3 separate regions of the Homo sapiens genome follow, and regions 2 and 3 are each reported to be linked to region 1. Evidence: microRNA targets listed by miRTarBase, many of them from high-throughput screens and not tested one by one. Region 1 holds a microRNA gene; each other region holds the end of a gene's coding sequence. Distances are between the middles of the regions.
The links. The annotated mature microRNA hsa-miR-28-3p reads CACUAGAUUGUGAGCUCCUGGA and lies in region 1 at 1,882-1,903, opposite strand. An mRNA with a match to its seed (bases 2 to 7 or 8) in the 3' UTR can be bound and repressed. Matches are read on the target gene's strand: a 7mer-m8 pairs with bases 2 to 8, a 7mer-A1 pairs with bases 2 to 7 and ends in A, and an 8mer does both.

Region 2: the mRNA of YDJC is a reported target of hsa-miR-28-3p. The part of its 3' UTR that is shown has no 7-base or 8-base seed match.
Region 3: miRTarBase lists AZI2 as a target of hsa-miR-28-3p. Seed matches in the 3' UTR shown: 7mer-A1 at 342-348, 8mer at 1,898-1,905 and 7mer-A1 at 3,063-3,069.

The regions. Positions count from the first base shown.
Region 1 is chr3:188,687,479-188,690,736 of GRCh38, reverse strand. It overlaps MIR28 (microRNA 28), which reads right to left and starts at 1,956; the gene lies at 1,871-1,956. All of the region lies in intron 7 of LPP (LIM domain containing preferred translocation partner in lipoma), which reads right to left.
Region 2 is chr22:21,625,573-21,628,786 of GRCh38, forward strand. It overlaps YDJC (YdjC chitooligosaccharide deacetylase homolog), which reads right to left. Exons shown (of 5, transcript NM_001017964.2): 5 at 2,517-3,214. The coding sequence ends at 2,846. Among named protein-coding and RNA genes, the nearest start is that of YDJC, 2.8 kb to the right of the region's middle. RefSeq lists a silencer at 1-80 and an enhancer at 2,284-2,891.
Region 3 is chr3:28,321,000-28,324,212 of GRCh38, reverse strand. It overlaps AZI2 (5-azacytidine induced 2), which reads left to right. Exons shown (of 8, transcript NM_022461.5): 8 at 1-3,166. The coding sequence ends at 171. CMC1 (C-X9-C motif containing 1) reads right to left here. Exons shown (of 4, transcript NM_182523.2): 4 at 1-3,213. Among named protein-coding and RNA genes, the nearest start is that of ZCWPW2, 26 kb to the left of the region's middle.

The sequences.
Region 1 (3,258 bases):
TAACTACCAAACTACCCCTAAAAGAAGAAGAAGAATGTGGAAAGAGAGAACACTTTGACTATTCTCTCCTTCTACCAGGGTCTGACTACAGGGATTTTGGTAAGTATTTATAGAACCCATCTACATTTTACACAGCTATTTATCATCCTTTAAAATGTGTTATTGCTTGTGCTCAAAGGGAACACGAAAATTAGGGCACCGTATCCATTCCAACTTGTAGATTAAAGGAACACAGAATGTTTTTTGAAACATTAGAAAAATTAGATGTAAAACCACAAATAAAGAAAAAAACTTATCTTTCAGGGAGCAGACCCCTTGAAACAACATATTTTTTGCTTCAACAAATACTTTCTGCTAGCATTACTGTGGCATACTAAGAAGTTTATCGATTTAGAGTTATCAAGCTCTAACCTCCAAAGGAAAAGCCTAACCCCGAGCAAACAGCAATACTGACATGTCACATAGCGTAATGAACACTGGACTCGGGAGCCAGAGGACTAGGATTTATGCCCCAAGCCTGCTGCATACTAGTCACATGACCTAGCTATGTCACATAATCTCTCTGCATCTCGCCTGCTTATTCTAGACTAGGTCAATTCCATTTGCACTTTATAAGGTAGGTATGAAGATGATGACCTTTGGGAGCATTATGCACATCTTTCAGAGTTTGTCACATGTAAATATTGGCAATATCTTGGGTTACCTTGTGATAAAGTCAGGGAAACAGATGCAGTGATTTCACAGGTCAGAGAAGGATATTCAACTTAAAAATCCCATTCTGGATTTTCTAAGGTCACTTATTGAGCCAAAAAAAAAAAATGAGCTCAGAATTCCTGATATACCATCATGTGTCAATGGGACAAAAATTACTAATATTTATCTCACTAGTTTCTGATACAACAGGAAACCTCTAACAAACAGGTAGCATAATAAGCTATATGGATTTGGGCAAGTCACTTCACTTCTGTGGGTCTCAACTATACCCATTCCTCCGCTCACTTGTGATTCAACAAATATAGTAAAGGGTACTAATTCTTACCATATGGACCTCAGAGAGACTATTAGGAACTGTGAAGTGAGATAATGAACTGTGAAAATTCTCCGAAAACAATGAAATGTCAAACAAACCTGGAGGACATTATGTTGAGTGAAATAAGCCAGGCACAGAAAGATAAATATTGCATGATCTCACTCAAGTGTGGAATCTAAAAAAGTTGATCTCATGGAAGTAGAGAGTAGAATAGTGGTTAACACCTCCTCTAAGCCACTGTGAGAAGGACTCCATCACTTGCAAATACAATTGATTACACAAAGCACAAGCAAGTCAACTTTTCCTGCCAAGAAGATTTGTTGCCCTTGGTGAAATAATAGCATTCTGGCCAGAAAGGAAATTTCATCATTTTCCTATGACTTCGATTCTGACTTTTGCAATATGCATGCCTGGGCTTCAGAGTCCAGAACCCAATTCTGGCCCTGTTAGTTTACAGCCTAGAGCCAGTGATTTGATCACTGACTGAGCTGAGGATAGATTTGCTAACTACCATAGCTGGGTGCCAGGCCGACCCCAGGCTCAAATCCTCCCAACACTGAGGCTGCATAGACAGGCTCTCCAGCCAAGCAGGCAGCAGAAGTGTCCTGAATGTTTACCATGTACCAGGCACAGAGATAGAGGAGGAAATAGCATACACAGAGCTCCTGCTGTGTCAATCACATCTCATTCTTTTCTCGTTTAATCTTTCCCTGATGAGGTAGGCAGTATTAGCTCTGATTTTCAGAGCAGTTAACAGATGTGAACAAAGTTAAAATAATAGAGGCGGGATTGTAATCTAGGATTAACACTGAAATTTAAGCTCTTTTTCAGATGAACGAAAGTGCCTGCCCTCCAGGAGCTCACAATCTAGTGGGAAAGTCAGAAAGGTAACTCAATAGACTGTGAGCTCCTTGAGGGCAAGGACCATTTTAAATTTTTTCTTGTATCTTCAGCATCAAGCATGTTGTCTACCATGCAAAAGGCACTTAATAAGTGCTTGCTGAATAGACAAGCCATATTTAGATGTTGCCCTTCATAAAATACAAACCTAATTATATTACTCATCTGACTTCACAAACCTCTTCTAGCTCCTCTTTGTCAAACTCCTGAGTACTACTTAGAAAGTCCTTGAAGGGCCTGCCTTCATAGTCTCATCTTCTGTGATTCCCTTCCACATCCTCTGTGTACCACACTTCCATCTTCCAACTATCTTGGCATATAGGTGGTGTTCAACAAATGTTCATTGAATGGGCAAACAAAGCCAAGAAGGGATATATCTGCATAACATCAGAGGCATCAATATAATGCCTTATGAACACCAAGGGTAGATTTATCCAACTGAAGGCATCAGGAAGGTTTCACAGAAGACAGGACAATTGATTTGAGTCATTAACTCTAAAATCTCAAAGGCTAGATGACATTGCATAGGGAAAATTCAATCCTCTTTTGCTATTAATTAGGCAAATGACATCATAACAAAACATTTTTCTTTAAACCAGAATATGAGCTGTGCCAAATTCCGTCATCTAAAGGATATGGGTTTAGGCCAAAAGCCCATCATATAGATTATTGTTTTTCTTCTCCCAAGTACTTTGGAAAAACTAAGTCTCATTTGGCATGCAGTGCCTCTCAGCAAGGTCATGGTTCTTCTGCCGTGGTGCCTGGGGCAGTTAAGGTAAGAATTGTGTTTCAAAAAAATACCTCAGACACTGTTAAGAATAAGATAACGTGGTGAAACCCCGTCTCTACTAAAAATACAAAAAAATTAGCCAGGCATGGTGATGGGCGCCTGTAGTCCCAGCTACTCGGGAGGCTGAGGCAGGAGAATGGCATGAACCCGGGAGGTGGAGGTTGCAGTGAGCCGAGATCGTGCCACTGCACCCCAGCCTGGGCGACAGAGCGAGACTTCATCTCAAAAAAAAAAAAAAAAAGAGTATAAGACAGCTGGTTAGACAGGATGACATGGGAATATTCAGAGCTTTGGTCAAGAAATCAGACCAATGAGTCAGTAAGAAAGGGTCATTGAATTACTCCATTTTCACACTGCTATAAAAAACTTCCCTGAGAATGGGTAATTTCTAAAGAGGTTTAACTGACTCACAGTTCCGCATGGCAGAGGAGGCCTCAGGAAACTTAAAATCATGGCAGAAGGGGAAGCAGGCACCTTCTTCACAAGGTGGCAGCAGAGGGAGAAGCGAGCAAGAGCAAGGAAAACTGCCTTAAAAATC
Region 2 (3,214 bases), not on the chromosome of region 1:
CAGAGTGGACCCTCCAGACACGAATGCCGAGTGGGCGGATAACAGTGAACCGCTTGGCTAAGACACTGTTGCTGCCCCCACAGCCCCTGTGGCCCACCAGTCACCACCCCAACAGGTCCTTATCACTTTCACCTCCTCGTGAGATGGGCCTCATTATAATCAGGTGGGCCTGATTATCCTACCAGTCTATGCCCCCTCACTTCAGTTTTTTTTTTTTTTTTTTTTTTTGAGTCAGGCTCACTCTGTCACCCAGGCTAGAGTGCAGTGGCATGATCACTGCTCCCTGCAGCCTCTACCTCCCAGGCTGAGTCGATCCTCCTATCTCTGCCTCCTGAGTAGATGGAACTACAGGCTTGTGTCACTACACCCGGCTAATTTTTGTATTTTTTATAGAGACAGGGTTTTGGCATGTTACACAGTCTGGTCTCAATCTGCTAGCCTCAAGCCTTCCTCCCGACTCAGCCTCCCAAAGTGCTGGAATTACAGGCGTGAGCCACTATGCCCAGCCATTATTTTTTCTTTTTTAAATAACAGAAATAAGGTCTTAGTATGTTGTCTAGGCTGGTCTGGAACTCCAGAGCTCAAGTGATCCTCCCACTTCAGCCTCCCAAAGTGCTGGGATGATAGGTGTGAGCCACTGTGCCTGGCTTCACTTCACTCAAATGCTCATGGTCAGCCGGCTGCTGTGGCTGATGCCTGTTAATTCCAACACTTTAGGAAAGGCCAAGGTGACCAGATCTCTTGAGCCCAGCAGTTTGAGACCAGCATGGGCAACATGCCAAAACCCCATCTCTACAAAAAATACAAAAATGAACCAGGCATGCCTGTGCTCCCAGCTCCTCAGGAGGCCATGGTGGGATGATCACCTGAGCCTGGGGAGGTGGAGAACTGCAGAGACGTGATTGTGCCACTGTACTCCAGCCTGGGTGACAGGATGAAATCCTGTCTTTAAAAAGAAAAAAAAAGTCTCACGGTCCCCAGGGCTGCTGTCGACTCTGCTCATCCCTCCTTCCCTCCCTGAGTGACAGTAGCCACTCATATAGCATCTGTGCAGACCCCCAGGTCTCTCCTGCCCACCCACACCTCTCCTGAGCCTAAAGCTGCACAACCAGCTGCCTCCTCCTCTCAGAACACTTCCATAACAGAAGCCCCTCAAGGGAGCTACGTCTGTATCCCCGGCTAACTTCAGGCCACCCCTCTCCCAGCCTTAGCCAGCAGCCTGCAGGAGTGTGGCCAGATCTCAGCAGGCTGAGGCGAGGAGGTGGAGGCTAGGCAGCAGGAGGAGCAACTGTACAGTGATTCCAGCTCACAAGCATGGGTGCAAGAAAGCAGGAAAAGTGCTGCAGATGGGAGAGTCCAAGTCTAGTGAAGGTCAAGATGGAAGACGAGTGTGGAGCCAGAAAAAGGGACTGAAGCCACAGTCAAGGGGATGGGGCCATGAGTGGGTAGAAGCAGGAAGGAGGAGCGACATCCCACACTCACCCTTCAGAAAGCCACACGTCTCTCCAAGCTGCCTAGGCTGGATGAGAGCTCTCTTGGCCCCTGATTCCATGTTTGGCCCAGGCTAGGGCCCAGTGCACATTAAATAAATGAATGAGTAGTTTCAAAGCCCTGCTCTGCCACTCCTGCCTCTACCCCTGTAAAATGGGGACATCGGTGCCTGCCTCATAGATGCTATTTCATGAAATGAGACAAGGACCACATGGTATTCCATCTGCCTTTCCATCCTGCGGAGTGGTGCAGAAGGACTCTGTGCTCTAGAGGACTCGCACTGCCTTCCCCATCTGCTCCTGCACCTCAGGAGCTTTCAGCTAAGCCACATGCGGCCCCAGTCCACAGGGCATCCCTACATTGCCAGAAGTTAGGAACCATGGTATCCCATTTCCCGGGAAGACTGCTCCTCCTAGAAAAATTTAAATGTATTCCCACAGGGTTGCAGGGTCTCCTCACGCCTATCCCGTAGAATGGCTTACATCTAAACAGATGACTTTTGTTTTTGAGATGGAATTTCGCTCGTTACCCAGGCTGGAGTGCAGGGGCGCGACCTCGGCTCACCACAACCTCCGCCTCCCGGGTTCAAGCGATTCTCCTGCCTCAGCCTCTCCAGTAGCTGGGATTACAGACATGCACCACCAATGCCCAGCTAATTTTGTATTTTTAGTAGAGATGGGGTTTCTCCATGTTGGTCAGACTGGTCTCGCACTCCTGACCTCAGGTGATCTGCCCGCCTCGGCCTCCCAAAGTGCTGGGATTACAGGTGTGAGCCACCACACTCAGCCTACAGGTGACTTCTTAAATCAATACTGAGATTATAGTATTATGCCTCTTCCAAAGCAGCCTGGTGAGGACAATCTCCCACTCCCACCCTAAAAAGGAATAAAGAAAATTGCAGCATGAACAAAACCAGAATGGAGAATGGGCCATTTCCTGGAGTGGTTTGAGCCAAGAGGGAGCTGCTCTTTGTCCGTGCTTGTTTCTCTGAGGGTCTCCTGGGCACAGCTGATAAACCACCCAAGTTTGAAAGACACACGTTATTTTATTAATATAGCCATCTCTCCCCACTGCCCCAGTGGTGAAGGTGTTTGCATTGCAACATGGAGGGGCACCAAATGCTCTGCGGGCCCTAGCCCGCTGCCACAGGCTAGGCCTGCCTGCAGCCAAGAAGGCTGCTCAAACTCTAGATGCCATTTGGAGGCATGAGGACCTGAGCCCAGAGGTGGCAGTGTCCTACCCAGGGAAGTCAACAGATCGTGCTCCAGGTCCCAGCTCTGGGCTGGGCCAGGACTAAATCCTGGCTCCCCTTTCTTGGTACTAAGGGGATTAGTGCTTGGTTGTCTGTAGGGGGTCAGAGTAGGGAGGGTTCCAGGAAGGGTTCCAGAGTGGGCTCACAGGGGACCTCCTCCCCTGGCCTCTTGGAGTCCAGGTCGTCGAGGGCGCAAAGCTGCACGCCATCCTGGGCAAGCTGGGCCCGCAGCGTGGGCGCGGTGAGGACGCGCAGCTCATGCAGCCGCTCCCAAGAGCAAGAGAAAGCGTCGGGGCCTTCACCGCAGCCGCCGGTGGGAGGCACACTGGGGTAGCCGGGGTGCGCCATCAGCTCGGCTGTCAGGGTGTGGCCCGCTAGGGTACCTTCCAGGACCCGCGCCAGGGCCCCGGACACGCGGTGAGCGGACATGTGCCGGCCGCAAGTGCTCAGGCCCACGAAGGCGTCTGTCCA
Region 3 (3,213 bases), 160 Mb from region 1:
AGTTCTTATGGCAGAAATTCTCTGGAAGACAATTCCTGGGTATTTCCAAGTCCTCCTAAATCAAGTGAGACAGCATTTGGGGAAACTAAAACTAAAACTTTGCCTTTACCCAACCTTCCACCACTGCATTACTTGGATCAACATAATCAGAACTGCCTTTATAAGAATTAATTTGGAAGAGATTCACGATTTCACCATGAGGACACTTATCTCTTTCAGTGGTCCTCCCAAGAAATTATTTAACAAACTGAAAGGAGATTTTGATTAAAATTTTGCAGAGGTCTTCAGTATCTATATTTGAACACACTGTACAATAGTACAAAAACCAACATAGTTGGTTTTCTAGTATGAAAGAGCACCCTCTAGCTCCATATTCTAAGAATCTGAAATATGCTACTATACTAATTAATAAGTAAACTTAAGGTGTTTAAAAAACTCTGCCTTCTATATTAATTGTAAAATTTTGCCTCTCAGAAGAATGGAATTGGAGATTGTAGACGTGGTTTTACAAAATGTGAAATGTCTAAATATCTGTTCATAAAAATAAAAGGAAAACATGTTTCTTCAAATTGCATAATGGAACAAATGGCAATGTGAGTAGGTTACATTTCTGTTGTTATAATGCGTAAAGATATTGAAAATATAATGAAATAAAAGCATCTTAGGTTATACCATCTTTATATGCTATTGCGTTTCAATATTTAAGATTTAAAGTGATTTTTTGGTCACAGTGTTTTGTTGATAAAATTTTTTTAGAATTGAAGTTTGAATTCTAAGACTTGAAACAACCTGATCACTGAAGCCAACTTTGTCCCAGCACATTCCTTAAGTCCTAATTGGGAAAAAAAAAAAAAAAAATGAAATAGTTGAAAAACTCTGGGGTGTAAACAAATGATTGTAACCCTACACACTATTCAATAAGTAGTAGAAGGAGCATCACACAGATTTCAGTCTAATCTGCCCTTCTGTGGGCCATAATATAAACATAAATGTGTGTAATGATAAAAAGTCATTTTCTTCAAAGAGACTACAGCTAGCTGCACATTGTGTAGAGCAGCTTCTAAATTGTTAGACTTTGTGTTGAAATGTAATATTCTATTTATTGAGAAAGTGATTTAAAATTATTATTTTTAATCATAGAAATCAGGGTTTGGGCTGTATTGATATTGTCGATCATGAAATGTCCACACTTATTCTAAGTGGCCAATTATTTGGAAATAAAGAAGGAAATAAAGATGGCTTCACATGGAAATTTAAGTTCTTTCAGGGTGGAGATTTACTTGGTTCATACACCTTTTGCCTGAATTAAAGTATTTCATGTAGGAGGACTTTTATCCTTTTTGATAGACAGTTTCATATATCTTGAACTCAATATCTCAGATCTCTTCTACTGTATTACTGAATAGCATACATACATAGACAATGTTCGCCATTCACTAGATATTTTTTTCTATTATCTTACACTTATTCAAGCTTGTCTGTGATTAATGGAATTGGTGTCAGATGCTGGAATTTATTCTGACCAATGAACACAGCTGACTCAGGGGAGTACAATCTCCTGCCAAGTAATAGAACCAAACCCAATATGCATAAAAGAAATACAATACTCCAGGCTTTAGCTGAAGGAAGCAACTACCTGTGTAATAACAAAGCAGCAAAAACTATTTCTCATGTGGCTGCATAGGCTGTATATTATATCTGATCTCTAATGTAGCTTACTGGTTTGCCTTTTTTAAAACCAAAATTGGAAATTTTCCTTTGTAAAGAAAAAAAGTCTTATGAGATAATTGCTTGATTAATGTTTTGAACAATACCAAGAAATTGTTTAATTAAAATAAATATTTTTGTTTGAAATTGAAGTGGATGTGAAATATTGTCCTTGCCTATAGATCTCAAAATCTAGTACTAATTGTTGGTTGTTAATATGATTCATACAATAGACATTTGTTAAACCAGCTTTTGAGTGGAGAAAATTATTTTCCATTTAAACAGTACAGTGATGATAGCTATCAAACAGGTATACTAAAAAGTCAGTGACTGTGACAGTTTAAAGTGTTAGACAAATGATGTATAAGGTTCTTTAGTAAGGAAAGATTAGCCAAAAATTTTTTACCCAGCTAGAAGCTTTTAAATCTACACTTGATATCTCTGTTCTAGGTAAAATTCAAACAACCAAAAAACAGTGGCCCATCTGTAGCTTATGAATCTATTTAAAATTGAATATTTTATGTTGACTTCTTTCATACTAGCTGAAACTTGCTCTAAAGAGCTTCCTTTGGAATCTTTAGATTTCTTTTTATAAGGTTCAATTCAGTACATCCATAAATCGACAGAATGAAGAAAACATAACAAAAAGCCACCTATTCCTTCCTCTTGCTCCCTTATTAGCTAAAGTAAAATTTACATCTGTAAGACTTACTGAGTTGCTGCCAAAATGGAACTGAATTCTTAAAAGCAGGAACATGCCTATGTGAAACATTAGAAAACCAAAATAAATGGGAAAATTCAGACTTGAAGAGCTGAATCATGTGACAACAAAGTACTGATCTTAATTCAGAAAGGCTACTTGGAGAAGGTGTATCTTAAGGGGTAAAAAACCTGTGGGTTACCACATATTAACAGGGAATAATATCAACAGAGGCACCCATAAGCAAGCAAGACACAACTGAGACAGATGTACCAGGTGAAAAAAATCTTCAGTATGGATACACATGGGTATTCTGAAGGCTACAATGAATGGTTTAGTCTTTGACATAAGGAGGATGAACATATTATTTATACTGTGTAATCTAATCTGGCTTCTATGGGGAAAGCAACATGTACATAAGTGAATTTTCTACATGAAGTGGGCTACTTCTGATTTTAATCAAAGCTATAAAATAGATTGTATATTTCACTAGCTTCTTAAAGTAACTCTTCCATTTTCATTTATCTCTAAAAACAGTTAACTTCCTGTGCTCTAGGAAATGCACCAATACCAAAGGTCAATGTGGAAATATGGGCATGTTTGCCCCTATGCTGTGTGGTCTCTAGATTTCTATATTTGCTTTGCTTTTGTCTGCTCTAGTAATCTCCCTCCTTTTGATCTGTGGCCTGGGAAAATGTGGTTTCTTTGTATTTCAAATAAAAGTAAAATAGTTTTTTGAGTGGTTCACTCAAGAGTAAAGTGTGGAACTTGAATTGATTCTTTAGTGTCCTATTTAAATTCTTTCT